Regions from separate parts of the Homo sapiens genome. Here region 2 is linked to region 1. Evidence: fine-mapped expression QTL. A gene starts in region 1. The other region holds a variant in brackets. All regions are shown on one strand. Distances are from middle to middle.

Region 1 (17,124 bases):
AATGACAAGAGTAAACAACGGATACTATACAGTGTAGTGAATTCAAAAATTACATGATGAGATATTCAGCACTTTGTTATGCACTAGGCTTTGTGTTTGATGATTTTGCTCAATTGTAGGCTAATGTAAGTGTTCTGAGCACATTTAATGTAGCTTAGGCTAAGCTATGATATTTGGTAGGTTAGGTGTATTAAATACATTTTTGGTGTTTTTTTTTTTTTTTTTTTTTTTTTTTGAGACAGAGTCTTGCTCCCAGGCTGGAGGGCAGTGGGGTGATCTAGGCTCACTGCAACCTCTGCCTCCTGGGTTCAAGCAATTCTCCTGCCTCAGCCTCCCAAATACCTGGGATTACAGGTGTGAGCCACCATGCCTGGCTAATTTTTGTATTTTTTTTTAGTAGAGGTGGGGTTTCATCATGTTGGCCAGGCTGGTCTTAAATTCCTTACCTCAAGTGATCTGCCTGCCTCAGCCTCCCAAAGTGCTGGGATTACAGGCATGAGCCACCGTGCCTGGCCTAAATACATTGTTTACTTACAGTATATTCAATGTATGATGGATTTGTTGGGACATAACCCCATTGGAAGTCAAGGAGCATCTGTCGTGCTTCACATGTATAATCTAAAATAAAAGAATTAATAAGCAGGACAATGAGGAAAACATTTCCTTGCCTGGTTTCCATTCCTGAACCAATGTTCAGACTCAGAACCCACTGAGTGAAGTGGTGGCCAAGTCACCAAGATGAAGGACCTGTAACACTGTGGCAAGAAAGTATTGTCACAGTTCCTCTGATTCTTCCCCTAAAGAGATCTACAATATTTATTCCAGTGATGGAACACGGGATGGGGGAATATGCAGACATTTTGGTGACTGTTGGGTACAAGGTCAGAGGTCAACTGATGCCCAGAGAACTGAAGCATTCTCATCGCTTCCATGTTAGAGTGGGAGCAAATGGAGTCCTGACTGAGTTCCAGCTTACAGTGGGTTCTCTGGGTCCATGAACCCACCAATCGTCCTTCTCCTAATCCCCAAATATATGGTTAGGATTGCCACACTTGGGAATTGGGCTAACTCTCACATTCATCCTGGTTTTGTAGAGTGGGAGCTATCACAGTAGGGAAGGCTAAGTGGAAGTATCTGAAACTGTCCCCCACCCCAGCCAATGTGGTAACTACAAAATAGCATTGCAGTCTAGGGTGAGGAGGATGGCAGATATTAGTGCCACTCTTAAATATCTAAAGGATGAAGAAGCATGGTCCCTGTCATGTTTCTGTTTAATTTGCCAGTGTGGACCCTGCAGCAATGGGATGGTTCCTAGAGAATGACTTCAGACTACCGCAAGGAAGTAGTAGCTCTGTACTGGATATAGCATCTTTGCCAGAGCAGATTTATGCAGTTTGAAGTGGTTTGAGGCCATTGATCTGGTGAATGCATTCTTTTCTATTGCAATCAAGAAAGAGGATCAGAAAGAGTTCATATTCATATGGAATGCATAGCAACAAGCCTTTACAGTTTTGCCACAGGGCTATGTTCCTTTTCAGTCCTCTGCCGTAATCTAGTCCAAAGAGAACTGGAGCATTTGGACATCTCACGTAACATCACATTGATCCATCACATCGAGGATGTCATGCTGCTCTAGCAGGATGAGAAAGAGGTGAAGAGCATGGTAGAGGCCTTGGTATGACACATGTGCTCCTGAGAGTGGGAAATAAATCCTACAAAGATACGGTGACCTGCCACTTCACTAACGATTTGAAAGGTCCAATGGTCACCAGTGTGCTGGGACATTCCTTCCAAGGCAAAAGAAAAATTGTTGCATCATTTATATTTATTGGAAAGAAGGAAGCACAAAGTCTGTTAGGAATCTTTGGGTTCTTGACAAAACACATTTCACACCTAAGAATACTGCTGCTGCGCATATACTGGGTTACACAGAGATTGCCAGCTTTGAGTGAGGCTCAGAACAGGAAAGAGCTCTCCAGGCTGTGACACAAGCAGCCCTTTTGAGTGGACTGTAAAATCTGGCACAGCTTCTCATGTTGGAGATGTCAGTGATGGAAAAAGATGTAGTATGGCATTTATGGTGAGTCCCAATAGAGGAATCACAATGCAGACTCCTTGGATAGTGTAACAAGGTCATGCCAACTGCAGTGAAGGATTACACTCCTTTCAGAAAACAGCTCCTACTTTCTACTGGGCCCTGGTGGAGACACCAAGTGATCATGGATTCAAAACTGGCTGCCATCAGCTACGTCCTGTTAGACACACCAAGTGATAAGGTCAGGGCGGGTCAGTATCAAAGCCATCATAGGATAAAACTGGTACATCTGGGACTGAACACAAGTGGGACCAGAGGGCACACGCACACTCAAGCTGCATGAGCAATTAGCCCAGATTTCCATGTCATTCACTACGGTTGCACCAGCACCCCTCCCCCAGCCTCACCTGTGGTCATGTGAGGGGGTCCCATATAACCAGCTAAAGGAGGAGGGAAAAAGACCAAGTTTGCGTTAAGGATGGGCTAGCTTAATATGTGGGTACAAGCTGAAAATGCATGGCAGCTATATTACAGTCTCACTCAGGGAAGTCCTTGAAAAACAGTGGTAAGGGAAAATCTCCCCAGCGGGAGGAGCTTTGAGAGTGTACCTAGTCATCACTTCGTATGGAAGGAGTATGGCCTAGGGTTAGAACATACATGGTCTCATGGGCAGTGATGGTGGCCTGGCTGGGAGTTTGGGAGCCTAAAAGTAAAAGGAAGCATATGAATAGATGTATGGAAGTGGGCAGTTCATATCACATTAAGACCCACAAAAGATGTGCCAACTACACAAAATAACTTGGCCAGTTAATGTTGGCCAGGCTTAGTGACAGGCCCCCTCCCCCACTGCTGCTCAAAGAGGCCATGGTGGCCAGGAGATGGAAGCGATGCAAGAACCTAACAGCATAGATTATCATTTGCCAAAATAAACACAGCTACTGCCACCTCTGAGTGTCTGATCTGCCAGCCATAAAGACCAATGCTAAGCTCTATTCCTTAAGGAGACCAATAGACTACTTGGGGACCAGTAGACTGCATCGGGCCCCTTTTGTCCTGGCAGAACCATCGGTGGTTCTCACAAGAAGAGGCAGTTATTCTGGATTTGGGGTTGCCCTTCCTCCCTGCAGAGCCTCAGTAGTAGCACTCTTTTTTTTTTTTTTTAGATGGAATTTCACTCTTGTTGCCCAGGCTGGAGTGCAATAGTGCGATCTCAGCTCACTGCAACCTCTGCCTTCTGGGTTCAAGCGATTATCCTGCCTCAGCCTCCCAAATAGCTGGGATTACAGGCGTGTGCTACCACACCCGGCTAATTTTGTATTATTAGTAGACACAGGGTTTCACCATGATGGTCAGGCTGGTCTGGAACTCCTGACCTCAAGTGATCCCCCTGCCTCAGCCTCCCAAAGTGATGAGATTACAGGCTTGAACCACCGTGCCCGGCCAGTAGCACCACTTTCTGGAGACTTAAAGATTGCCCGATCCACAGACATGGAATCACACTTAACATAGCATCTTATCAGGTGAATCTTTTCATGGCACAGAAAGTGGAGGGAATGAACCCATGAACATGGTACTATCCATGGTCCTATCATACACTTCACCACCCAGTAGCTATAGGATGAAGTATTGGAATGGCTAGTTAAAGATGGAGTCAAGCACCAGAATGGAGCTGATACCCTACAATGATGACACAGACTCCAGAACATCGTGGTATATGCCTTGAATCGGTCAAGTTAGTATGGTACTGTGTCCATACATGAGTCTGGAAAGAATGGGTAAGCCTGAGTGGCCCTACTTAGTATAATTCCAATGACCCCCTGCAATTTCCTCTCCCAGCAATGCTGGGCTCTGCAGAGTTATAGGTCTTGGTTCCCCAAAGGGGCACACTCTTGCCTGGAGATACCACAGAGATCCCACTGGACTACTGTGATGGCTGTCACCAGGTACTTTGGCCTCCTAATGGTCAGAGACTAGCAAGTAAGAAAGGGAATGGCCATCTTATTCGAGGTAACTGTTGCTGGTCAGCAGGAGGTGTGGCTGTTGTTACACAATGTGGGCAGGTGGAATATGTATGGAATTCTGGTGACCTATTTTGGTGTCTCTTGGTAATCCTTTGCCCAGCTGGGACTGAGATGTGCTCAGACCACTTTCAAATAGGGCACCCGACCAGATTAAGCTACTGAGAGCAGCTGAGGTGGTGGCCAAGGGTGAGAGGGATTGGAATGGATAGTGGTAGAGGGATATGATGAGGACCAGACCACCAGCTGTGGCCTTGAGACCAACTGCAGTGACAAGGACTATAGTTCATTCCACTAATTTCTCTCTGGTAAGCTTCCTTGTAGGAAGAGTGACCCTGAAAAGCCTGTTCCCTAAATACAAATGGATAAAGAAAGCCATGTAGTACAAAGGGTGGACTACAGCTGACACAGGGTGGCACTCAGGTCAAGCTTGCAGCCCAGCTTTGAGGAGCATGTTTAGCCAATATCCTCCAGCTTTAGCTCTTTCAAGATCTGCCCCAGCATTCGAGCTGAAGTCATCCACTTCTCTGGTGGCCCCCACCGGTGACTGAGCAAGGCAGTACAAGGGCCTAGCCTTTTCTGTCCAAAGCTGGACTCCTACTCCAGAGCTCCTCATTGGGCTGGCAGAGACTTTGTTAGGTCCGCACAAAAGTCTGATAGGCCCCATGGATCAATCATGCTTTTTCCTTTGACTTTTTCTGGCATTATGCCCCAGAAAAAGTGCAGAGAAAGTTCTGCACTCTTAACTCCATGTCAGGATCTCCTTCCTGGAGAACCCAATCTCTGATGGCACATATTTCAAAATTTTTCAAAATGTCTCCTTTTCCCTTCCCAGAACTCCTTAAATCACCTTTCTCTTTCACTTTCCCTTTCTTTTTTCCTTTCACTTTCCCTTCTTTTTTCCCCTTTTCCTTTTCCTTCCTTTTTTTCCTTTTCCTTCCTTTTCCCCTTTCCTTTCCCTTCTTTCCTTTCCCTTCCTTCCTTTCCTTTCTCTTCCTTTCCTTTCCCTTCCTTTCTTTCCTTTCCCTCCCTTTCCCTTTCCATTTCCCTTTCTCTTTCATTTTCACTTTCCCTTTCCCTTTCTCTGTCACTTTCCATTTCCGTTTCCCTTTCCCTTTCCCTCTCTTCCCTTTCCAAAAGGATCTTCCTCTGTTGCCTTTGCTGGAGTGCAGTGGCACAATTGTAGCTCACTGCAACCTTGAACTCCCGGGCTCAAGAAATCCTCCCGCCGCAGCCTCCCAAGTAGTTGGGACTACAGGCACATACCACTATGTCTGGCTAATTTTTATTTTTAGTGGAGATGAGGTCTCGCTATGTTGCCCAGGTGGATCTCACAGTATGTTGCCCAGGATGGTCATGATCCTCCCGCCTTGGCCTCCCAAAGTGTTGGGATTACAGGCACAAGCCACTGCACCTGGCCCTTAAATCATTTTTCATGGCTTCAAATTGGAGGAGATTCTATGTCTGTACTCCCAACCACTGTAGCCAAACTAGACTCTTCAGTCTCTCATCTTCTATATTCCCATTGTGGCATTTACCCATGAATTTGCTTATATTTCCATGCATTTTTTCATGTCTTCGCATACATGCTCCTTGAGTGCAGGGACTGTTTTTTAAACTTCTGCATGTCCTTACATTACTAACTAATGTAAATACCACATAGAAGATAGTCAATAAACATCTAGAACTTAGTTGATTTGATAATAAAAGGTCCCTGGGAACCTGTCAGACCACAAATAAGGCCAAGTGGATTAAAAGACAACTATAGAAGCAGCAACTAGAGGGAACAAGATGTCCCTCTTAGACATCCTAAGATGATCCTATGTGGCCCCCATGTTTGGCTGGTTTTCATAACAAAGTACTCTATTCCTGAAAGAGGGTTTATATACCATGAATGACAAAACTGAGGAGAATTCTCATTAATCATTTTGAAGAATTTCTAAGTTAGCAACCAGAATCTATTATTTTTTAAAAAGATGTATTTCTTATCTGATCAAATGACCCATCTATTTTATTTGAAGATGTTGGAAAAAAAAACCTTTTTTCTCTTCAACTTGTGTCCTGTCTTTGGGGGCCTAAAAATTAACTGGCACTAGACAGATAAATAGGAGAAAAGACAAAGTTTATTTACACATGCATGCAGGAGCTTCCAGTAACAGAAAACTCAAAAGTAAAGGTTTATATACCTCAACTTAACAAAAAGGAAAGTTTTAGGGCTTCAGTAGGAGAGTTTGGAAGTTTTGATTGGGTTGTTTTGTGTTTTTGAGACAAAGTCTCAGCGCTATCCCCCAGGCTGGAGTGCAGTGGCACAATCCCGGCTCGTTGCAGCCTCCTCCCGTGCTCAAGCAATCCTCCCACCTCAGGCTCCCGAGTAGCTGGGACTGCGGCTGCACACCACCATGCCCGGGTTGTTTTTATTATTATTATTATTATTATTATTATTATTATTATTATTATTATTGAAGAGAGCTCACTATGTTGCCCAGGCTAGTCTTGAACTCCTGGGTTCAAGCAATCCTCCCACTGCCTCGGCTTCCTAAAGCGCTGGGATTACGGGCTGAGCCACAGCACCCAGCCCATTGGGTTTTTTGGTGCTAATGGTAATGGGACAGTCTGTCTTCCTGGCAGCTGAATACTCCGAGAGGCTTTTAATGGCACCATGTTTTCGGGAGGTTTTGCTTTAGTCAGATAAGGGAAGTTTCATTAAGATTTCTTTCTACATCTTCTGTAGCTCAATGTTTTCACTTAAAAACAATCTTTATGTCAACTCTGGGGGTCAAAGTACGTCCCCACGGTGGAAAAGTTCTTGTCCCAATCTCTACGGGGAGGAACCGATCTGAAATCTTGGGATATGTCTTAGCATGTCCACCGTGATTGAGGTACAAGCAGTGGTTCAGGGCACCGAGTTAGCGATTCTAGGTAAGCAAGACCATGTCAAGAAGTGGTTTGTCCAAAAGTTCGTGAGAAGGCAGAAACGAGGGAGAGTGGCAATCGTTGTTCTTTAAGAGGGCACGGTGGTGGAGGAGAAACTTGCACATCGGGGCCTGGGGTACCACGATCTGGGGCCTGGGGACGCGATTTGGGGAAACTCGGTGGCATCTGGGCTCCGCTTGATGCCAGTGCGTGTTCGTGCAAGTTACTTCCTCAAGTTCAGGGTGAGGATAATAATATCTACCATGTGGAGTTGCTGGGAAGATTCACTACCAACAGAGGCAGAGCGCACGGCTCGCAGGAAGCGCTCGCTAGGGTCTGCTCTTTCCGGGAATGGGTGGGGTGCGCACTCCTCAACAGGGCTCTCAGGACTTGCGTCACACGCCTCAGTCGGCTGGCTTATAAAACACCGGCCAGAGCCCCAAGATCGCTTTTAGTTTCTCTTCTTTCTAAAGAAGGCTCGCGGAGCCCGGCTGGAGAACCTCACCCTCGCCGAGCCTAGAACCGAGAGGGGGCCACCCCAGGCGGTCACCAGCAGATTTGCCCGCGCGTTCTCTTTCTTTCCACCCAGTTGCCCTTGCGGCCGGCTGTAAACCTGCCACTAGGACCCGGTCGGTGAGATCTAGCCTCTTGACCTGAGAGCCGAGAGTGGATCGCTGGGCTGGGCTAACGGCGACGGAGAGCGCGCCCTCGCTGACTCCGGGCGCGCCCAGCAGTAGCACCGCCCGCGCCCGCCCCTGGACACTTGTAAGTTTCGATTTCCGATTTCCGCGGAACCGAGTCCCGCGCCGCGGCAGAGCCAGCACAGCCAGCGCGCCATGGCGGACCCGGAGGTGTGCTGCTTCATCACCAAAATCCTGTGCGCCCACGGGGGCCGCATGGCCCTGGACGCGCTGCTCCAGGAGATCGCGCTGTCTGAGCCGCAGCTCTGTGAGGTGCTGCAGGTGGCCGGGCCCGACCGCTTTGTGGTGTTGGAGACCGGCGGCGAGGCCGGGATCACCCGATCGGTGGTGGCCACCACTCGAGCCCGGGTCTGCCGTCGCAAGTACTGCCAGAGACCCTGCGATAACCTGCATCTCTGCAAACTCAACTTGCTGGGCCGGTGCAACTATTCGCAGTCCGAGCGGTGAGTGCACCCGGAGGGAGGGGCGCTGTCCGCAGCCGTGGTCGGGGTGGACTGTCCAGGCGGGCAATGTTCTGGGAGGGGCACGGCTTCGCCGGGACCCCGCACCTGACAGCCTCCGCCTCCAGCCACTCCCTTCTCTGCTCCCCTCTGGGAGCCTCTGCAGGGCCCGCGCTTCTACCTTTGCAGTTCCCTTCCTTCCGGCACCTCCAGACATTTTCTCGAGAATGGCTAAAATGCTAGTGCCTGGAGGAGACCAGGCTCAACCTCCACCCCTTTCCCCGCCCGCCCGCACGAATCAGAAGAATAAAGTGCTCTGGAGCCAGCCAGGGCCTAGAGAAGCGGTAGGCAGGTTTGGGAAGGAAGGAAAGAGCCTCCCGTCTTTGGTATCTTGAGTCTTTCCCTCCCTACTACCTCCTTCCCTAGACGTGGCGGAGCCAGTAACCCAGCCGCCCTGGGCCCCCGGTCCGTCTCCGCCGGAGCGAGCCGCAGGTCTCTCTGCTTGTCCCTCCCTTCCCGGTCACCCCCATGCCCCTCATCACCGCTTTTCTGATGCCTGGCGCGTAGCAGGGGTGGCCCTTTTCCAGGTTCCTGAAGTTGTAGCAGCCGCGGGCCTTCCCTCCGGGTGGTCTCTCTACGGTGGCGCGCGCAGTTGACCGCCTGCCTTGGGACAACTCTCTTAAATCCCTTTGAAGCAGTGTGGCTCACGTCTCGGGCCACTGCTTCTGTTGTTTCCGTTTGCCTTTTTTTTTTTTCGTCTAAATGCAGATGCGCTGCAAGGTTTGGGTTAAGACTCTTGAGTGATTTTCTTCCCAGTTTCTCCCTAAGAGAGCTTGCTCCCTCGAGGACAGCTGCACATCTAAAAAGATGGCTTCCAGGTCCACATTCGCTGCCCAGGCCTTTCCCTTGATCCCAAGCCCTTCCTCTCCCGCGTGTGTCCTGTCCATGGAGTCAAACTCATCTTTTCCCCCAGGCAGGGTTTTAATCCTCCTCACAATCTGTCATCACCAAGTCCTTTTTGTGAAGTCTCTTTCCCTTCTTGGCGGATTCTGCCTTCCCATCTAATTTCTGAATGAACTGAATGAACGCCTTGTTGAATTAATGAATGGCCAGTCTTTCCTCCCACCCTTTCTGTCACTATGTGCTCTGCTCAATTACTTTTCTCGATACAGTACTTTTTACACTTGGCCCATTCTTAAACACTTTGACTTGTGTCCCAGGGTTTAAAATGGTTGTCAGCAAACTTTTTAGGCTGGAGTGCAGTGGCTCCACCTCGGTTCACTGCAACCTCCACCTCCCAGGTTCAAGCGATTCTCCTGCCTCAGCCTCCCGAGTAGCTGGGATTACAGGCATGCACCATCGCACCCGGCCAATTTTTGTATTTTTAGTAGAGACAGGGTTTCACCATGTTGGCCAGGCTGGTCTCGAACTCCTGACCTCAGGTGATCCACTTGTCTCAGCCTCCCAAAGTGCTGGGATTACAGGCATAAGCCACCAAGTCCGACCAGTCGGCAAACTTTTGATCACGCACCTAACAAAAACTCCAGTCACTCACCCCCAATATACGTGTAATAAAACACACAAAGGTAAGTGTTTTAGATGGATGAGGTAGAGGACGCAATGTATTTTTTTAAAAATTTCTTTAGAGCAAAAACCCTTTCAGCTCACTCTAACGTTTTTAAAAAGTGCTTGAATGTGTTCCTTTATTTAAAATTTTCTTTAATATGTTGTGGGGCAACAATTTGAAGGTTGTTTCTGAGTTGCTGGGAGTTATGGGTATCGAGGAAATCATCTAAGTCATTGCTGGTCACTGAAGAAATCTCTGAGAAGGAGAAGAGAGCAGAGGGTGGAGGATAGAAAAGGAAGGAACATTCTAGCATGTTCTAGCACTACACCAAATAACATGGTTGGAAGGCTTTGTTATGTTTTTTCTGTTCTTATCTTTTCTATTATGACAAATTCTTCACCAACTAGTGTTGATTTTTAGTATGAAATACATATGCTTTTTATTTTTTTATTTCTTACTATGGATATTTTCAACATACTCAAAAGTAGAGAGAAAAAAATGATGAAGCCCCTTGTACCCATCATTTCAACAGTTTTGAAAATATGGCCAGTTTTGTTTCATTTATTCTCCCTATTCCCCATGTGTCCCCAACTCCAATGTGTTATTTTAAAGCAAATCTCAGCAACCATTTGATTACTAAGTACTTTAGTATCTCTAAAACATAAGAACTATGTTTTATTAACATAATACAGTACAATGATCACATTTTTGTAAAAAAAATTACAATTTTAATATCATCTATTGTCCAGTTGGTATTCAAATTTCCCTGATTGTCTTATAAATCCAACTTTTATTTTCAGGGAAAAGGATACATAGACATAATCCTTTTAAAAAAAGATTTTTTTAAAATTTTTTGAGATAGGGTCACCCAAGGCTGGAGTGCAGTGACCCGATCTCAGCTCACTGCAAACTCTGCCTCCCAGGTTCAAGCAATTCTACTGCCTCAGACTCCCAAGTAGCTGGGATTATAGGTGTGTGCCACCATGCTTGGCTAATTTTTTGTATTTTTAGTAGAGATGGGGTTTCGCGATGTTGGCCAGGCCGGTCTCGAACTCCTGAGCTCAAGCGATCTGCCGGCCTAGGCCTCCCAAAGTGCTGGGATTACAGGCCTGAGCCACTGCCTCACCTGGCCTATAATTGTTTTCATATGTTACATATCTAACATTTAAATACTTTGTTTCAATTTGTTGTAGGCAATATGCTTAGAAATTTTAGTTTTATGAAGTTTATTATGGTATATTTTTCCCTGGTTTGAAACAGCAAAACTGTTTTAAACTCGTTAATTGGGTTGTTAACCTCCACTTTTATAAGAATATATATAATATAGGGATTATTTGGTCTATCTAAATTTGGATGGACCCTCCAGAGAAGTCAATAAAGTTTATTTTTTTTAGTAGAGTGATAAAATCTTATTTCCTAACATTTATTGGCAGAGCCATATTTTTAATTTCATTTTATATCACTTTTGAATTTGGGAATTACAAACTTTTAATCTATTAATGTATAAAGTGTTGTAATAAGGACCTCTGGGAGAATTTTTTTTTTGTCCTCGGGTCCTAGAAAACATGTTTTTTTCCTCCCTACTTATGTTTTAAAAATATTCTCCTCTTAGCGAGTAATAAAACCTTGTCTTCCAAAACTTGCCACTTGTGAGTTTAAGAACTTTCTTTGTAGATTACCAGTTAATGGGGTCTGTTAACTAATTGATACCCATCTTGACATTACTATTCAGTTCACTAAACTGGTCTCTGTTTACAGGGGGACGATTTGCATTGTGCTGGGTGTATAAAATTTTGTCTGTGGTACTATTATTTATAGATAGGATTTATCCTGTCTATTCTGTAGTTCCTGTCTTTTCTTTTGCAATGTTTTTAGTGATACATTTTAGTTGACAACAGGGCTTGCTTCAATGTTGGATAATTGTTTTGGTGAATCGGTTTGGATATTTCTATTTGCTTTGCTGAAATATATGCCCACACATGGAGTTCTAATCCCACTTCTGATGCAAAAATAATCACTATTTATCGAACAAATAACTATGTGCCAACCACTATGATAAGCACTTTGGAGATGATATCCAGGTTAGTCTTTAGGATAGCTCCTAAGGTAGTATTTTAAGTCCCATCCTTATTGTAGGAAACTCGGGCATGGAGCCTTTCAGAAATCTACTGAAAGTAACATAACTAGAAGCTGGCAGGATTGGTATTTGAACCTAGATCTGCATGACTTCCTTTTTTTTTTCTTTAGAAATGAGATCTTGCTTTGTCACCCAGACTGAAGTGCAGTGGCACGGTCATAGCTCACTGCCACTTCGAATTCCTAGGCTCAGATGATCCTCCTCCCTCAGCCTCCTGAGTAGCTGGGACTACAGGTGGGCGCCACCATGTCCGGCTAACTTTTCTTTTCTTTTTTTTTTTTTTTTTTTTTGAGACAGAGTCTCACTCTGTCACCCAGGCTGGAGTGCAGTGGCGTGATCTCAGCTCGCTGCAACCTCCGCCTCCCCGGTTCAAGCGATTGTCCTGCCTCAGCCTCCCGAGTAGCTGGGATTACAAGCATGTGCCACCACACCCAGCTAATTTTTGTATTTTTTAGTAGAGATGGGATTTTGCCATTTTGCCTGGGCTGCTCTCAAACTCCTAGGCTTAAGCAATCTTCCCAGCCTCCCAAAGTGCAGGATTACAGGCATGAGCCACCGCTCCCGGCCTTGTTTGACTTTTTTTTTTTTTTTTTTTTTTTTTGTGACAGAGTCTCGCTCTGTTGCCAGGCTGGAGTGCAGTGGCGTGATCTCAGCTCGCTGCAACCTCCGCCTCCCCGGTTCAAGCGATTCTCCTGCCTCAGCCTCCCGCGTAGCTGGGACTACAGGCGCCTGCCACCACGCCTGGCTAATTTTTTTTCATTTTTGTATTTTAGTAGAGACGGGATTTCACTATGTTGCCCAGTCTGGTCTCCAACTCCTGAGCTCAGGCAATCCGCCCACCTCAGCCTCCCAAAGTGCTGGGATTACAGGCGTGAGCCACCGCGCCCGGCCTTGACTTCTTAACTAGCTACTTACATTGTCCAGTAACTATATGAAGTTATTAATTCAAAAATTTATTTTGCCTGCATGATTTCTGTTAACTGTTTCAAGCAGGCTGCCTAAGGGTCTTTACCTTGCTTTGCGGTTTTTGCCGATGTGGGTGTTTCCTCTGGGTTCTTTCCTGTTTGTATGTCTTTCCTTTTCGGTTAATTCACATTTTGGGTGGGGGTGGGTAGATGGGAAGAGGACTAGTTGACTGTTTCGCAAGTTGAATAGAATACTGAAAAACGCAAGCATCAGAGAATATTTATTCTGAACCCATAAAAGTTATAACTCACCTCCTGGGATAAATAAGTGTTCACATTTTTCAGTTTTGCTCCTCTTTTAAAATATACTAAACAATCATAACAGACCTAAGGTTATTTTTTTCTCATCCCCAGTCTCATTTCCCTTTCCTAAGAAGCAGCTTCAATCATGATTTTGGTGTGTATCTTGTCCTTCCATGATTTTATAATTTCCTCTTGTATATGTTTGCATCCATATACAAAATGTAGTATTTTATGTGTTTTAGAATTTTTATTCAATGCTGTGTTTTGGAGATCTATTCATATTGCTACACAAGGACCTAGTTTATTCATTTTAACAGTTGAAAAGTATTTCATCATAGGATTTATACCACAGTTCAGTTACCTATTCCCCCCAGTAATGGATATATAGTATATTTCCAGGTTTTTGTTATACCAAATCGTGCTGCCAAGAATTTACGTGCAAGTGTTTCCTGGTGCTCATGGTTAGAGCTTTTCCAGGGTAGATCATTAGGAAGTGGAATTGTTGGTTTGAATTGTTACATAGCTTCAACTTTTCCAGATTCTGACGAATTAGTATAAAGGTGGCTGTGCCAATTTATACTTATATGTCTGAGTGTCCCAGTTTCCTCATTTTCTGGCCAATTAATGCTTGGTGTTATCAGACTTTTTTGGCTTATGCCAGTCGGAAGGCTTTGAAATAGTCATTATTTGAATTCAAAAAAAATTTTTTTCCTGGGCTGGGTGCAGTGGCTCATGGGTGTACTCCCAGTGCTTTGGGAGGCCAAGATGAGAGGATTGAGGACAGGAGTTCAAGACTAGCCTGGACAACATAGTGAGACCCCATCAAAAAATAAAAAAAAAATAAAAAAATAAAAAAATAAAAAACAAGTAAAATAAATAAAAAATAAAAATAATTATATAAAAAATATTAGCTGGGCGTGGTGGTGCATGCCCATAGTCCTAGCAGTGCTGGAGGCTGAGGCAGAAGGATTGTTTGATCCCAGGAATTTTGAGGTTACAGTGAGCTATGTTCATGCCAGTGCACACCAGCCTGGGCAACAGAGTGTGGCTCTGTCTCCAAAAAAATTTTTTTACAACAAATTTTAAAGTTTTTGTATTAAAGTTTTTATTTTATATATATCATATATAAACACACACACACATATACATATACATATACATATACATATACATATATATATACTTTTTTTTTTTTTGAGACAGGATCTTGTTCTGTCACCACTCTGGAGTGTGGTGGTGCAAATATGGCTCACTGCAGCCTCCACCTCCTGGATTCAAACGATCCTCCCATGTCAGCCTCCCAGTAGCTGGGACCAGGCTAGTGCCACCATACCTGGCTAATTTGTGTGTGTGTGTGTGTGTGTGTGTGTGTGTGTGTGTGTGTGTATAGAGACAGTGTCTCACTATTTTGCCCAGGCTGGTCTCGAGTGCCTGGGCTCAAGCATTCCTCTTGCCTCAGCCTCCCAAACTGCTGGGATTACAGGCATGAGCCACTAAGCCCAGCTCAGCATGATTTATTACTGTTAAATATTTAGACATTTGTATCCAAGCCTCCATTTATAACCTTGCTCTGGGCCCCACCAATTTTAGAGAAGGTCTACTCTGATTCCCTGAAATGTCTTCATTGTTTTCTTTTGCATGAATGTACACAATTTATATATTGATCTTCTTATTATTAAAATTGAGACTGGCCTCAGTAGCTAATATCTGTAATCCCAGTACTTCAAGAGGCCGAGGTGGGAGAATCTCTTGAAGTCAGGGGTTCGAGACCAGCCCGGGCAACATAGCTCCTACAAAAACATTAAAAAATAAAATTAGTTGGACACAGTGGCACACACCTGTGGTCCCAGTTACTCAGGAGGCTGAGGCGGGAGGATCACTTGAGCCTGGGAGGACAAGGCTGCGGTCAGGTGCAGTTGCGCCACTGCCCTCCAGCCTGGGCAATAGAATGAGACCCTGCCTCTGAAAAAACAAAGTAAAATTGATATTGTTTTAAGTATTTGCTATTAAACCATTATGCTTTGAACATTTTGGTATATGCTTCTTTGTGTACATGTACATGAGTTTCCCTAGAGATCTAGTAGTGGAATTTTGATTTTTTTTTTTTTTTATTGATCATTCTTGGGTGTTTCTCACAGAGGGGGATTTAGCAGGGTCATAGGACAATAGTGGAGGGAAGGTCAGCAGATAAACAAGTGAACAAATGTCTCTGGTTTTCCTAGGCAGAGGACCCTGCGGCCTTCCGCAGTGTTTGTGTCCCTGGGTACTTGAGATTAGGGAGTGGTGATGACTCTTAACGAGTCTGCTGCCTTCAAGCATCTGTTTAACAAAGCACATCTTGCACCGCCCTTAATCCATTTAACCCTGAGTGGACACAGCACATGTTTCAGAGAGCACAGGGTTGGGGGTAAGGTCATAGATCAACAGCATCCCAAGGCAGAAGAATTTTTCTTAGTACAGAACAAAATGAAGTCTCCCATGTCTACTTTCTACACAGACACAGTAACAATCCGATTTCTCTATCATTTCCCCACCTTTCCCCCTTTTCTATTCCACAAAACCGCCATCGTCATCATGGCCCGTTCTCAATGAGCTGTTGGGTACACCTCCCAGACGGGGTGGTGGCCGGGCTGAGGCGCTCCTCACATCCCAGACGGGGCGGCAGGGCAGAGGCGCTCCCCGCATCTCAGACGATGGGCGGCCTGGCAGAGACGCTCCTCACTTCCTAGACGGGATGGCGGCCGGGAAGAGGCGCTCCTCACTTCCCAGACTGGGCAGCCGAGCAGAGGGGCTGCTCACATCCCAGACGATGGGCGGCCAGGCAGAGACGCTCCTCACTTCCCAGACGGGGTGGCGGCAGGGCAGAGGCTGCGATCTCGGCACTTTGGGAGGCCAAGGCAGGCGGCTGGGAGGTGGAGGTTGTAGCTAGCCGAGATCACACCACTGCACTCCAGCCTGGGCAAGATTGAGCACTGAGTGAGCAAGACCCCGTCTGCCATCCCGGCACCTCGGGAGGCCGAGGCTGGCGGATCACTCGCGGTTAGGAGCTGGAGACCAGCCCGGCCAACACAGCGAAACCCCGTCTCCACCAAAAAAATACGAAAACCAGTCAGGCGTGGCGGCACGCGCCTGCAATCGCAGGCACTCGGCAGGCTGAGGCAGGAGAATCAGGCAGGGAGGTTGCAGTGAGCCGAGATGGCAGCAGTACAGTCCAGCCTCGGCTCCGCATCAGAGGGAGACGGTGGAAAGAGAGGGAGAGGGAGACCGTGGAAAGAGAGGGAGAGGGAGACCGTGGAAAGAGAGGGAGAGGGAGACCGTGGAAAGAGAGGGAGAGGGAGACCGTGGAAAGAGAGGGAGAGTGGAATTTTGATTCTTAAAGTTTTATGTGATAATGCCAAATTGTTTTCCGAAGTGTGTTTGCCAAGTTATACTCCCACCAGAAGAATAAGAGCCTTCCCTTGCCTCACATAGTGGCCAAGTGGTATCGTCAGCTTTTAAAAATTTGTGCCAATACAAGGAATGTGAAATTGTATCACTGTGGTTTTTTTTGTTTGTTTTTGTTTTTGTTTTTGTTTTTTTTTGAGACAGAGCCTCGGTCTGTCGCCCAGGCTGGAGTGCAGTGGTGCAATCTCGGTTCAGTGCAGTCTCCGCCTCCTGGGTTCACGCCATTCTGCCTCAGCCTCCTGAGTAGCTGGGACTAGAGGTGCATGCCACCACCCCTGGCTAATTTTTTTTTTTTGTATTTTGGGTAGAGACAGGGTTTCACCATGTTCGCTAGGGTGGTCTCGATCTCCTGACCTCGTGATCTGCCCACCTTGGCCTCCCAAAGTGCTGGGATTACAGGCGTGAGCCACCGCGCCCAGCCCTCATTGTGGTTTTAATTCTTTATATATTCTGGATCTCTAGCCCTTTTAAGTCTTATTACTCATTTTTTTAAGTTTGTCTTACTTGGCATCTTAGTAGTTGCTTCTTATTCGCATTTTACTTTTTTGGTCATCATAGCACTCTATTTTTGTTTGTAACAGTTTTTGTTTGTTTGTTTTTTACCATTTTAAAAATGGCTAAAACTATTTTTATTTATTTTTTGAGATAAAGTATTTATTTT
Region 2 (14,620 bases), 21 kb before region 1:
GAGCCCTGGGAGGTTGAGGCTGCAGTGAGCCACCATCACGCCACTGCATTCCAGGCTGGGTGACAGAATGAGACCCTGTCTCAAAAATAAAATAAAATAAAGGCAACCTGGTGTTATGCAACAAGGAAAATGTGGTCATTGTCTTAGAGAAAAAAGAGGAAAACAGACTGATGAAAATAGATATATACATAGCACTCAGTCCACTGATTCACAGAACTAGAAGGTTCTTCCATGCCAACTCCCCCACTGTAAAGATGAGAAAGCTGATGCCCAAAAAGCTAAAAAACACGCTCAACACCAGAGTACTTAGTAAGAAGGCAAACTAGGCCGGGCGCGGTGGCCCACACCTGTAATCCCAGCACTTTGGGAGGCCGAGGCAGGTGGATCACCTGAGGCCAGGAGTTGGAGACCAGCCTGGCCAACATGGTGAAACCCCATCTCTACTAAAAATACAAAATATTAGCCAGGTATGGTGGCAGGCACTTCTAATCCCAGCTACTCAGGAGGCTGAGGCAGGAGAATTGCTTGAACCAGGGAGGTGCAGGTTGCAGTGAGCTGAGATTGCGCCATTGCACTCTAGCCTGGGTGACAAGAGTGAAACTCCAACTCAAAAAAAGAAAAAAGAAAAAAAAAAGAAAGTGAACTATTTGTGGAAGATGGAGAAATATATGTAAACCTAATTATAACAATTATTAAGGGTAGATTCAGAGTAATATGGACAGAGTAGCATTTTAAGAGAAATGAGTGTGGTACAACACAACCAGACCATGCTGTCAGAACTCTTCATTCTTTGGTGCAACCCTTCACCCTCCTATAACATGTGTTTCCCACAAAGCAGTTTTTTAAAGCACAGTCTCCTGGGACCATCTCCATCAGAAGCACTTAGACTACTCACCTTAAAATGCAGATTCCTGAGCACCTCTGCAGACTTACAGCAGGAGCCCAGGAATCGATATCTTATTAAGTACCCTAGGTAATTCCAATGTATATTAAAAGGTGAGAACTACTGCCATGGAGATTTGAAATATTTTCTGGGGCTATATTTTCAACCGTAAGCATGTTAGAATTATTTAAGTTTGATCAAAATTTTAGAACACATAATAGGAAAAAATCATACATTGGTCAAGGGTTGGGATAAGCAATGTGTGAAATGACATTGTATAAAAGGTCCCTTCATATTTTTAGATTGTAATCACTGTTGGTGAACTAGACATACTCAAAAGTGGCCCTCAAGAAATAAGTTTTGTTTTGTTTTTTTTTTTTTTTTTTTTTGAGACGGAGTCTCGCCTTGTAGCCAGGCTGGAGTGCAGTGGCATGATCTTGGCTCACTGCAACCTCCGCCTCCCGGGTTCAAGCGATTCTCCAGCCTCAGCCTCCCGAGTAGCTGGGACTACAGACACGTGCCACCATGCCCAGCTAATTTTTGTATTTTCAATAGAGACGGGGTTTCACCATGTTGGCCAGGATGGTCTCGATCTCTTGACCTTGTGATCTGCCCGTCTCGGCCTCCCGAAGTGCTGGAATTACAGGCATGAGCCACCGCGCCCGGCCAAGTTTAGTTTTTTAGTTCGTTTTTTATCAGGTTTATAGCTAACTTGGAATCTGGAATCTGTGCCTGACTAGATTTACAGGGGATTTGTACAGGAAGCCCCAGAATGCACCCACCTATTTCAAGAGCATAGCAAACAGCATTCACCCAAGCATTCATCTACAGTCTGGTATTCATACACTAAGAAGCAACGTTCTTTGGGCATTACCTCCAACAGGGTAATAGCTCCAGTGAAATCTCTTTTTGAAAGTAGCTCCTCTAGTTTTGGAATCTTCCTACCTTTCTTCTTTCTTTTGTCAGTGTGCTGTACGCCTCTGCCTACAGCAGGTTTGGCCCTTGAAAGCATCTGTAAAAGAAACAAAGACAGCTGTATGGTCCAATTCTGATTATCAGATTTAAACTGAGAGTGACAGCTCTGTAATTTATAAGTCAAGGCCGGGCACAGTGGCTCATGCCTGTAATCCCAGCACTTTGAGAGGCGAAGGCGGCGGATCACGAGGTCAGGAGTTGGAGACCAGCCTGGTCAATATGGTGACACCGCATCTCTACTAAAAATACAAAAATTAGCCGGGCGTGGTGGCATGCGCCTGTAGTCCCAGCTACTCGGGAGGCTGAGGCAGAAGAAACGCTTGAACCTAGAGGCAGAGGTTGCAGTGAGCCAAGATCGCGCCACTGCACTCCAACCTGGGCGACAAAGCGAGCCTCCATCTCAAAAAAAAAAAAAAAATTATAAGTCAAATCCTTAACAACGAACCCCAGGGAAGCCTATTCAAACTCGTTTTGTAACAGGTATTCTACTAGAAGAGCCATCAGCCAATACTTAGGAAGGACCAAACAGCTACTCCCAACTTTTATCTTCTCTGGCTAGAGATGCTTTCGCATTGCTTCTGTCATCTCAGCTTTCCCTTCCTCTGCTTCCCATCCCACGAGTGGTTTAAATGTGAGTAAACGGAAAAGCAGGAGGGAAGAAAGCACCGAGGTATTTACAGTTGCATCCCTGTCCCCCGTGGGAACACAGGGAGAGCTGGGGATTACTCTCTGCGGACACACCTAGACTTCACACAGAAGTGTGCTGGGAACCTCTAATCGCCAGCCTCAGGACCTACTCAAAGTACTCCCTTACTATTCAGAGCCACTAACCATCTTGACGTCGGTCTTGTGAGTCCCCACCACACAGCGAAGGCCGCGCCTCAGCGTTTCGCCGCATCCACACAGCACGTTCTGTCTCCACGGTAACCCCGCCTGGACGCTGGTACGAACGGGAGAAAAGCTCGTTGGAGAACCAGCGCCCGCGGCTTCTTGGTTCCGTGCAGCTTCTGCCGCGGAAGAGCCGAGGTTCCTCTTGGGAGGAGAGCGTCGTTCTCTGGGCTGAGAGCGAAAGTTTGGTTGTCTCTATTTATGAGTTTACTTTAGGAAAAGGCGAATTGGAATGGCATTGTTTTTCAAATGCAAGTTTTCTGGGAAAGAAATTTTCAGGGACCACTTCTGTTTGGGGCCGTGTTGGACTCCATAGCAACCCTTGACTATGTGCACCGCAGAATCTTGGTCTCTGGCTGGTGCGGGAAGCTTAGAAAATTTCTGCTGAAGGAGTTGTAGTTCTGTGATTTGGAAGCAGGAGTGCACCAAAATACAGTTTCCTATTTCCACAGATACACCTACACACAATAGAGAACTGTAATAAATATTTGTCGATTGGATGACTTAATTTATCTATCTTACTCCTGAACCCAGTTAATACAGGGGCAACCACAGTCTTTAAATTCACGAAATCGTGGAATGTTAGAGTTGGAAGGGACCTTACAGGACCTCTGGTCAACCCCTCAGAATTAACAGACTGAAGAACTAACATCTTGTTAGTTAACTAATGTCAGCCTAAAATAACCAAAAAGCTCAGGGATCCAGTTGAAAGAGTTTATTCAAGTGCAAAGTGTGAGGGCGGCTATCCCGGGAACCACTGACAGCAAAGAATGGTGATCAGTGCTCCCTGATGCAGGGAAAGGTGAGGGTCATTTATATCACCAAAAACAGGAGTGCTGTACGTAATTACAGCATTTTCTAGATGAGGCTAACGTACACAGAAGATTCAATTCACTACTATTGATTACACTGTAAGGGGGTTGTTTAATATTCTATTGTAAAGAGGTAACAATCACAAGGGTCTCTATCTCCAACGTCATTTAGTCTGAATAAAGAATAAAAAATCTGGTTAATATATAACATCAACACAAAGATCAGGAAGCAACAGTCATGCACCAGAGAAGAAAAACAGCCATGTTCTGTGATTTAGTTTACAGGGCTTAACTTTTCCCCTTGGCATAGTACGTTTGGAAAGTGCTGAAATTTTCTTTTCACATTTTCCCCTTTTCTTCAAAAGCTTTCAGAGAAAGCATTATAGAAGAATTATATTCTCAGGCCGTGTATTTGATCAAACCTCATGTCACTAGGAAGGCCCCTTCCTGGCAGTCACATCCCAGGGAGGAGGGGAAATTGGAAAGGACCAAGTCCGAATTATAAAGCAACAAGAGAAAGTAGTTCTGGAACCTGATTCAGGCTACACGGCTGCCTCTTCAATCAAACAATTCTCTGAGTAGTCTTTGTTCTACACATTTTCTCAGCTGTGTGTTGACCCAATTGCAGATAAATACCATAACAGCTCTGCAGACAAAGGCAAGACAAAACACAAACTATGATAATTCCTAAAATACATAACAGCTTTTGCCACCAAGTTCCCCAAGATCCAAATCAATTACTTAACCAGTAGCTTAGAGAGGGTTTTGGATCCGAAAGGTTAATTATTAGAGTTTTTCAAATCAGTTATTAATTTGGTGACGTTATTTGATTCATCTGGGATATAAACACAGCATTCAGTTTCTGTCATAGCACAGATTCCTCCTTGGGCTGCAGTGAGTATGTCTAAGACCATACAGTTTTGTAATACAGTCTTCTCATGACAGTAACTTCATTATTTAATAATGAGACATTCATGTGGCTGTTATTTAGGGCCTTTTGTGTGTAATTGGTTAGGGCCTGTACATGGCAAATGACATCTTCAATACACAGTTGTGGTACAAAGACAGAAGTGAATCTAAGTGGCTTCTGGAAGGTAAGCACTTTCTATTTCTTCTGTTAAAGACACTATTGCGTAAACCTTTACAGTAAGTTCCAGATTCATCCTTTAAATAACATGCGTCTGTAAACCAAACAACATTAGCCTAAGTAAGAAAAGTCTCTTGCAGATCAGTCCTAGGAGAAAACAAGTTTATCAGTTAGAGTTATGCAATTGTGTGGTGTTTCATCTGAAAGTGAAGGAAGAAGAGTTGCAATATTTAGCTTGTTACATCTAGAGATGGTGACATGAGAAGCTAAAAGAAGTGAAACTTTCTATGAAGTTAGTCTACTCATTGAATAACGTTGAGTGTGGTTCAAGTTTAGCAATGCTTCCACAGAATGAGGGATGAAAACAGTAAGGGGAGTTTTAAACAATTTCTTTTCTCTCAGAGTGTAAGGAGAAAAGGAAAGGCCCCTTTAAGTTCCATGGAGCACCCCCATTCTTTATTATCTGACTCCACCTGTTGTTCTTTCCTTTTTAGTTTTTGGCAGTTCGTTTTAATGTGATCAGGCTTTTTGCATTAATTGAAAGTGTATGGTTAAGTCTATTTGCGGATTTATAAGGATATCTTGAAGGTCCAAATTGTGTGGACATTTGTTTCGACTGTAAAATCATAATTTTATTAGCCTTGCTCTTTTGTTTGGCCTCCTTCTCAGATTTGTCTTCAGTTATGAGACAACTGGGCAGCAAGACTGACCAAATTATGATTTTGAGAAGTGGCCCAGCGAGGGTTTTGTCTTTTCATTATTAGTGCTAATTCTTCATCTAACCTATTTATAAAACTGGAGTTGAGAAGAATATCATTTTGATTATTAGCTTAGCTTTCTTCAGATAAACCCGAATATTGTTTAAGTTTACTCACACCTCTCAAAATATGATATTACTGACTCATCTGGATTTTGTTGACCTTGTTGTATTTTACTACAGTCAACTACTCTTAGAAACAGTGAGGAGTGGCTTGAAGCAATGCCTTTGCAGTTTTGTGTGTCTGCCTACAGTCCTGAGCATTTATGAAAGTCTTCTAAGAGATTTCTATAATGGGCCTTGTCTGTCTAATCTTTTTTTTTTTCTTTATACTTTAAGTTCTAGGGTACATGTGCACAACGTGCAGGTTTGTTACATATATATACATGCGCCATGTTGGTGTGCTGCACCCATTAACTCATCATTTACATTAGGTATATCTCCTAATGCTATCCCTCCCCCCTCCCCCCACCCCATGACAGGCCCCAGTGTGTGATGTTCCCCTTCCTGTGTCCA[A/T]GTGTTCTCATTGTGTCATAGCGTTCTCACTGTGTCATAGTGTTCAGTTCCCACCTATGAGTGAGAACATGCAGTGTTTGGTTTTTTGTCCTTGCGATAGTTTGCTGATAATGCTGGTTTCCAGATTCATCCATGTCCCTACAAAGGACATGAACTCATCCTTTTTTATGGCTGCATTGTATTCCATGGTATATATGTGCCACATTTTCTTAAACCAGTCTATCATTGATGGACATTTGGGTTGGTTCCAAGTCTTTGCTATTGTGAATAGTGCCACAATAAACATACGTGTGCATGTGTCTTTATAGTAGCATGATTTATAATCCTTTGGGTACATACCCAGTAATGAGATGGCTGGGTCAAATGGTATTTCTAGTTCTAGATCCTTGAGGAATCGTCACACTGTCTTCCACAATGGTTGAACTAGTTTACAGTCCCACCAACAGTGTAAAAGTGTTCCTATTTCTCCACATCCTCTCCAGCACCTGTTGTTTCCTGACTTTTTAATGATTGCCATTCTAACTGGTGTGAGATGGTATCTCATTGTGGTTTTGATTTGCATTTCTCTGATGGCCAGTGATGATGAGCATTTTTTTCATGTGTGTGTTGGCTGCATAAATGTCTTCTTTTGAGAAGTGTCTGTTCATATCGTTCGCCCACTTTTTGATGGGGTTGTTTGTTTTTTTCTTGTAAATTTGTTTGAGTTCTTTGTAGATTCTGGATATTAGCCCTTTGTCAGATGAGTAGATTGCAAAAATTTTCTCCCATTCTATAGGTTGCCTGTTCACTCTGATGGTAGTTTCTTTTGCTGTGTAGAAGCTCTTTAGTTTAATTAGATCCCATTTGTCAATTTTGGCTTTTGTTGCCATTGCTTTTGGTGTTTTAGACATGAAGTCCTTGCCCATGCCTGTGTCCTGAATGGTATTGCCTAGGTTTTCTTCTAGGGTTTTTATGGTTTTAGGTCTAACATTTAAGTCTTTAATCCATTTTGAATTAATTTTTGTATAAGGTGTAAGGAAGGGATCCAGTTTCAGCTTTCTACATATGGCTAGCCAGTTTTCCCAGCACCATTCATTAAATAGGGAATCCTTTCCCCATTTCTTGTTTTTGTCAGGTTTGTCAAAGATCAGATGGTTGTAGATGTGTGGTATTATTTCTGAGGGCTCTGTTCTGTTCCATTGGTCTATATCTCCGTTTTGGTACCAGTACCATCCTGTTTTGGTTACTGTAGCCTTGTGGTATAGTTTGAAGTCAGGTAGCATGATGCCTCCAGCTTTGTTCTTTTGGCTTAGGATTGTCTTGGCAATGCGGGCCCTTTTTTGGTTCCATATGAACTTTAAAATAGTTTTTTCCAATTCTGTGAAGAAAGTCATTGGTAGCTTGATGGGAATGGCATTGAATCTATAAATTACCTTGGGCAGTATGGCCATTTTCACGATATTGATTCTTCCTGTCCATGAGCATGGAATGTTCTTCCATTTGTTTGTGTCCTCTTTTATTTCGTTGAGCAGTGGTTTGTAGTTCTCCTTGAAGAGGTCCTTCGCATCCATTATAAGTTGGATTCCTAGGTATTTAATTCTCTTTGAAGCAATTGTGAATGGGAGTTCACTCATGATTTGGCTCTCTGTCTGCTATTGGTGTATAAGAATGCTTGTGATTTTTGCACATTGATTTTGTGTCCTGAGACTTTTCTGAAGTTGCTTATCAGCTTAAGGAGATTTTGGGTTGAGATGATGGGGTTTTCTAAATATACAATCATGTCATCTGCAAACAGGGACAATTTGTGTCTGTCTAATCTTTAGCTTTACTTTCTGATAGTCACATGTGAGTTAGTTGATATAAATCAGAATAACCAGGGCCATAAGCTCAGATATTTAATTCAAATTCCCTAGCAAAACAAATAGGATCCTGGTTAAGGTCGGGGAATTATTTAACTATGCCTTTAAGTTCTACCTTAGACCATGGTTGATAAACTAAAGCAGGTTTCCCTCTACCAGATGCTGGATGTTCATTAAATGAAGCCAAAAATGTGGGAGCAGGTGGAAGGGGAGGAGAGGGAAGAGAAGGTCAGTCTGGGCAAGGTAGTTGTGATAAGGAGGGATAGAGAGAAGGGGGAGCAGAAGGAGGAGAAGCAGCAGTTTCAGCAGCTTTTCTGAATAAAAGTTTTAGAGGCTTTTCATTCTCTTTCTATAGGAAAAGAACTCTGTCACAGCCTCTTTTGCATGCTTCTGGGTAGCATTGGAAATAACTCTCCAAATTATATTGTTTAATTCTGGAGCTGGCTTTTTCTAATTGTGCATGTGAGCAAACTAACTTAGGCATTTCACAAGTACCCTACTTTGGCCACTGTAATTCAGGGTCTTCTTGGGTCAAGTAAGACCATTTTTCCCAATACTGACAGGAGGTAGCAGGTGCGATGGCTCACACCTGTAATCTCAGCACTTTGGCAGGTTGAAGCAGGAGGATCACTTGAGCTCAGGAGTTTGAGATGAGCCTGGATGATGTAGTGAGACTGTCTCTATAAAAACTGAAAAAATTAGCCCAGCATGGGGGTGTGCCTGTGGTGCCAGCTACTCGGGAGGCTGAGGTGGGAGGATTGTTTGAGCCCCGGAGGTGGAGGTTGCAGTAAGCCGAGATCGTACTACTGCACTCCATCCTGGATGACAGAGTGAGACCCTGCCTCATAAAACATACAGACACACATACACACATATTTATGTATGTAGGTTGTTAGGTTGTGTGTATATATATACAGGAGGTGGCACTGTAAGTCTTGTACATAAATTTAGCTGGAGTTTCTAAAAGTGGGTCCTCCCTTAAAGAGGACTTTGTTTTAGATGAACAGTTGTCCATAATTTGTATCCTCTTTTAAATTGACCAAAGATTGAAAGGGAAAGACGTTTTGGGTCTAGTGTGCTGCTTAATAGTTTTTACTCCTCAAGGTTTCACCCATGAGTCACCTCTCCCCTCTTATGTGTCCCAATGAAACCCAGAAATTTCTGGGGGTTTTAGGTACTGGGAGCCCAACCCCTTATGTGTGCCCACCGAGTTAAGCAGATTTCCCTGCATATTCTTCTTTGAGATTTCCCTAGAGCATAGTTACACATCCCAAGCTATGGACTCTGACATTCTTACATGACCTCAATCACCTAAGGTGCTTTTCTTCTGGGAGGAACAAGGTCTTTTGTATTTGGGACTTATGTCCTCATATGAACCCTGTTTATAAATTTTTGGTCACTCAAGAATTAAACTTAAATGTCAATTTTTACTGAGCTCCAAAACCTGGGTCACCAACCTGGGTCCAATCAATTTTTTTTTTTTTTTGAGTCATAGTCTCACTCAGTTACCCAGGCTGGAGCGCAGTGGCATGATCTGGGCCCACTGCAACCTCCATCTCCTGGGCTTAAGCAATTCTCCTGCCTCAGCCTCCCAAGTATCTAAGATTACAGGCACATGCCACCATGCCTGGCTAATTTTTGTGTTTTTAGTAGAGATGGGGTTTTGCCATGTTGGCCAGGCTGGTTTCAAACTCCTGGCTTCAAGTGATCCACTTGCCTCAGCCTCTCAAGTGCTGGGATTACAGGTGTGAGCCACTGGGCCTGGCCTAAAACCACAAATTTACCTAAAGCCACATACATTCACTTTCTCTTTTCAGAGAGAGAACCTATTTTGTCCTCTGACCAAATTCGAATGACCGAAAGGGCCATACAAAGTGTAGCAAGTAGTTCAACAAACAAACCTTAACCTCAAAGAAAAGTGAATGTCATAAATCTGTGAAAGACAAAATAAGCAAACAAAACTTCTATCTTAAAGTACAGCTTCAATTCCAGCTCTGTGGAGCATAGAACTGGATCGCTTGTGTAAAGTGTGAATCTCAGTCAAAGCCAGGGAGATTCAAAACCTGAGAGGAAGCCTTGCCAGAGCCCCCTGCCAGTTCCAATGAGGTGGGATGAGCAAAAGCCGCTCCTGTAGACACCAAAGCTCCGAATGTCAGCAAAGAGGCACAGATCTCAGGAGGCCCGCTTAGAGTCTCTGGATCATCAAAATGTCAATCTAATATAATCAAACAGCTCAGGATCCAGTTAAAAGAGTTTATTCAAGTGCAAAGTGTGAGAGTGGCCATCAGGTAAACACAGACACCAAAGAAAGAATGGTGATCAGTGCTCCGCGATGTAGGGAAAGGTGAAGGTGGTATATGTAGGCAACCACAAGTGTGTTGCACAGAATTACAGCATATTACAGCATTTTCTTTTCTTTTCTTTCTTTCTTTTTTTTTTTTTTGAGACGGAGTCTGGCTCTGTCGCCCAGGCTGGAGTGCAGTGGCACCATCTCGGCTCACTGCAAGCTCCACCTCCGGGTTTCACGCCATTCTCCTGCCTCAGCTTCCCAAGTAGCTGGGACTACAGGTGCCTGCCTGGCTAATTTGTGTGTGTGTGTGTGTGTGTGTGTGTGTGTGTGTGTGTGTGTGTGTGTGTTTAGTAGAGACGGGGTTTCACTGTGTTAGCCAGGATGGTCTCGATCTCCTGACCTCGTGATGCACCTGCCTCGGCCTCCTAAAGTGCTGGGATTACAGGCGTGAGCCACCGCGCCCGGCCAGCATTTTCTATATAAGGCTAATATACACAGAAGATTTAATTCACTACTGTTGTTTACACTCTAAGGGGGTTGTTTAACATTTTGTTGTAAAGAGGTAACAATCACAAGAGTCTCCGTCTCCAACGTCATTTAGTCTAGGTTTGAATAAAGAATAGAGAGGCTGGTTAATGTATAACATCAACAAAAAGATCAGGAAGCAACAGTCATGCACCAGAGAAGAAAAACAGCCGTGTTACATGACTTGGTTTCCAGGGCTTGACTTTTCCCTTTGGCATAATAAATTTGGAAGGTCCTGAAATTTTCTTTCTTTTTTTTTTTTCACAGTAACAAGTTGGGCAAAATGAGGTAATTCTCCTGAGCGAATTTAAGTAATTGTGCATTGTTGAGTTACATTACATACCCTCCTGAATAACTAGCCTATGGAGATTCAAGTATACCATGAGCTCATGGAAGGCAGGTCTGATTTTTTTTTTTTTTTTTTTTTTTTGAGATGGAGTCTCACTCTGTCACCCAGGCTGGAGTGCAGTAGTACAATTTCAGCTCACTGCAGCCTCTGCCTCCCAGGTTCAAGCCATTCTCCTGCCTCAGCCTCCAGAGTAGCCAGGATTACAGGCATGTGCCACCACACCCAGCTAATTTTTTGTATTTTTTGTATTTTTAGTAGAGATGGGATTTCACCATGTTGGCCAGGCTGGTCTGGAACTCCTGACCTCAAGTGATCCGCCTGCCTCTGCCTCCCAAAGTGCTGGGATTACAGGCATGAGCAACTGTGCCTGGCCAGGTAGGTATGATTTCTTAGATTCTATTGCATACTCCTCATGCTCTGGCAACCCGCCACCACACCCCCCACTGTCCCTGTCACCCCACTGCAATCACTTGGTGAGTAAATGAATGACTAGATATCTTACTTCACTGATTATATATATAGAAAAACATCGATATACAGAGATACATAAAGACAGCTACATGTGTAGATTTCAGATAAGCACAAATTCACCAGTAGTGTACTTATAATTCTTTTGGTTCCAAATTTCAGAATTATCCCTATGTTTGGTTGAATTTAAAACAAAAATTATTTCTAGCTCCTCTTTACAGCAGAATGTTCTTGTAGGGGAGTGAAAAATGACTTCCCTCTACTCTTCTAAGTTCCTTGGCTGGGCTATGAATTAAACTGACATAAGACAGATTAACAAGAGGAAATCCATTTTTAATTATGTACATACCCATGCAAGCCCACAAAATATGAGATTCAAAGAAGGGTCAGATGATTGAAGCTTATATAGCACCCTGAGGTACAGAAGGGAATAGAGGCTTTGGACTTCTGCGTGGGTGGTGGTGACACCAGTTATGAGAATATGAGGGGAGGAAGTGTATGGTGAACAAAGGTTTCTTGTTATGCAAATGAGAAGCCTCTCAAGTAATAAAGGTTCTCTTGGAGCAGCCCTCAGAAGAAGAGGTGGCTGTCTAGGCATGATGTCAACCTCCAGTCTCCCCCTCTCTGATCTAAGTTCATTGTCCCTGGTTGATAAGGTTCCAGGGGAGGGGATTCATGACAATTGAGTTCCTTTTGGAGGATCCCTTGATCTGTCTTAGGCAGATAAGCAGATCTCAGAGAAAGTCTCTGCCTGCATCTGTTTTTCCCCAAGTGACATCAGTTCAAAGTAATGAGCATGTCAAATCATCATAGTTTGGGGTGGCATTTCTGAACTCCCATTGTGTATTTTTGGTGATAGCTTGATATATCATTCAAATTACCATAAAACCCACACTTTTAAAGTGTGAGTGGCTTTTAGTATATTCACAGTGTGCATCCATTATCACTATTGAATTCCAGGACACTGTTATCGCCCCAGAAAGAAACCCCACACCCGTCCGCAATCACTCATTGTTTCTCCCCTCCTCCCAGCCTCTGGCAACTACTAATCTCTTTATTGTCATTATAGATTTGTCTATTCTGGACATTTAATATAAATGAAATCATACATGTGGAGGTCCATATACCATATAGCTAAATGCTGGAAAATTTTAAATCAGCTTAGCAAACTGTTCAATAAAATGTTTTATCCTCCTACCTTGACAAATATACTATTATGAAGAAGGTCAGGCTCCAATTTAGAATTCTCGGACTTCTCAAAATTCTGTTGTGGATGTGGCAATGCAAAGAGATCCAGCCACAACCCTCAGCCCACAACCCATCTCTTCTCACTCCAGGTTCTCTCTACCCACACTATGTAGGGCTTTGTGCATGTGTGTGGACACCCAGCCCACAAATTCAAGCTGTAGTCACCCAACTCATCTGTGATCTGTCATTTCCTAATAGACCTATAGGGAGAACAGACCCCAGGAAGAGACCTGCTCAGGTGTGGAAACAGGCTTGGGGTTGCATCAGCGGGGGATTCAGAGTCCTGGGCACCACAGCATGGTCAGGAGAGGTGCAATGACCCCTTAACTCCATGGACTTTTCATACCTGGCTTAGGATGTGGCCACAGTACAGAGCCCAGAGCAGGGGCTTCTCTTGCCAGGGTCTGAAGGGTTGATGATACTATAAACAACCCTGCTGAATTTCCTAAATCAATTGAAATGACCACTGACTTCCAACAGTTAGGTATAGCTTTAAATCTCTAAATCCTGGTAGAGGCTGTTTGAACTGTAGCTGTAGTTATGAAGGGCAGAATATGACACTGAGTGTACTTGAGAAGAAGTTATTATTCCGAACTACGGCTCTAATGGTATTATGAAACATATAACATAGGCACACAAAACCTGGTTGCATAGGTAACAGGCAAAGTTGGAACTTGCAATTTCATTGCAGCTGCAATGGAGCAGTGGATTCTGAGGGACTGTAAAACATAATCCAGGTTTTGATGATTGTATGACAATAAAAATTTATTAAAAAGCATTGAATTGGCCAGGCGCAGTGGCTCATGCCTGTAATCCCAGCACTTTTGGAGGCCGAGGTGGGTGGATCACAAGGTCAGGAGTTCAAGACCAGCCTGACCCACATAGTGAAACCCCGTCTCTACTAAAAATACAAAAATTAGCCTGGTATGATGGTGTGCACCTGTAATCCCAGCTACTCAGGAGGCTGAGGCAGGAAAATCACTTGAACCTGGGAGGTGGAGGTTGCAGTGAGCTGAGATCATGCCACTGCACTCCAGCCTGGGCAACAGAGTGAGACTCTGTCTCAAAAAAAAAAAAAAAAAAAGCATTGAATTATACACTTTGAATAGGTGAATTGTATAGTACTGTAAACAAAAAATAAAATTCTAAGCCCCCACCCCACCCCGACAAGCATCTGAATGGATGCCTCCTCTCAACCAAGGGCATTCCAAAGTTAATCTGAAAAACTAGTTCAGGCCATGATGGGACGGGGGAGCTGGACATTCCTCATTATATCCTCCTTGCTTTTGGAATTACGGATAGAATAGACTCTTTAAATCTGATAAGAAACATTTATTATCTATTCTCTCGGAAGCCTGCTACCTGGAGGTTTCATGTGCATGATAAAACCTCAGTCTCTACAACCCGTTATTGTAAACCAGACATTCCTTTCTATTGATAATAACTCTTTGAACCAGCTGCCAATCAGAAAATCTTTGAATTTGCCTATGTCTTGGAAGCCCCTATTTATAATTGTCCCGCCTTTCCAGACCCAACCGATGTATAGTTTACCTGTATTGATTGATACCTTATGTCTCCCTAAAATATATAAAACCAAGCTGTAGCCTGACCACCTTGGGCTCATGTTCTCAGGATCTCCCAAGGGCTGTGTTACAGGCCATTGGTCACTCATATATGGCTCAGAATAAATCTCTTCAATTATTTTACAGAGTTTGACTCTTTTTGTTAACAGTAAGTAAATTGTGTCTTGCTAAATCTGGTTTTGTTTGTTTGTTTATTTTAAAGATAATCCAGCCCAGAGCTTAGAGTGCTGCTCTGGAGTCTATGTTTCTCCAATTCAGCCTTGATACACAGTGATGCTGACCCTAGGTCCTTAGAAATCACTGTAGAAATCATGTCTCTGTCATTGACCGGGGCCATGAGTTGCTGAAGGTATGCCAAGGCACTAAGTTTTGGCATTTCCTGCTAGGGTTGATTTTCCTTA

What was found. PIP is the estimated chance that this variant, and not a neighbour inherited with it, causes the effect.
Region 2: its variant is fine-mapped to the expression of ZC3HAV1 in whole blood (GTEx, PIP above 0.99).

The regions. Positions count from the first base shown.
Region 1 is chr7:139,100,010-139,117,133 of GRCh38, reverse strand. ZC3HAV1 (zinc finger CCCH-type containing, antiviral 1) reads left to right here and starts at 7,414. Exons shown (of 13, transcript NM_020119.4): 1 at 7,414-8,110. The coding sequence starts at 7,803. RefSeq lists enhancers at 7,306-7,465, 7,258-7,761, 7,706-7,805, 8,386-8,515, 14,788-15,359.
Region 2 is chr7:139,121,930-139,136,549 of GRCh38, reverse strand. IFT56 (intraflagellar transport 56) reads right to left here and starts at 2,772. Exons shown (of 18, transcript NM_024926.4): 1 at 2,690-2,772; 2 at 1,758-1,895. The coding sequence starts at 2,692. RefSeq lists enhancers at 2,756-2,935, 2,653-2,947 and a silencer at 11,233-11,527. The variant A/T (reference allele first, on the strand shown) is at 5,919.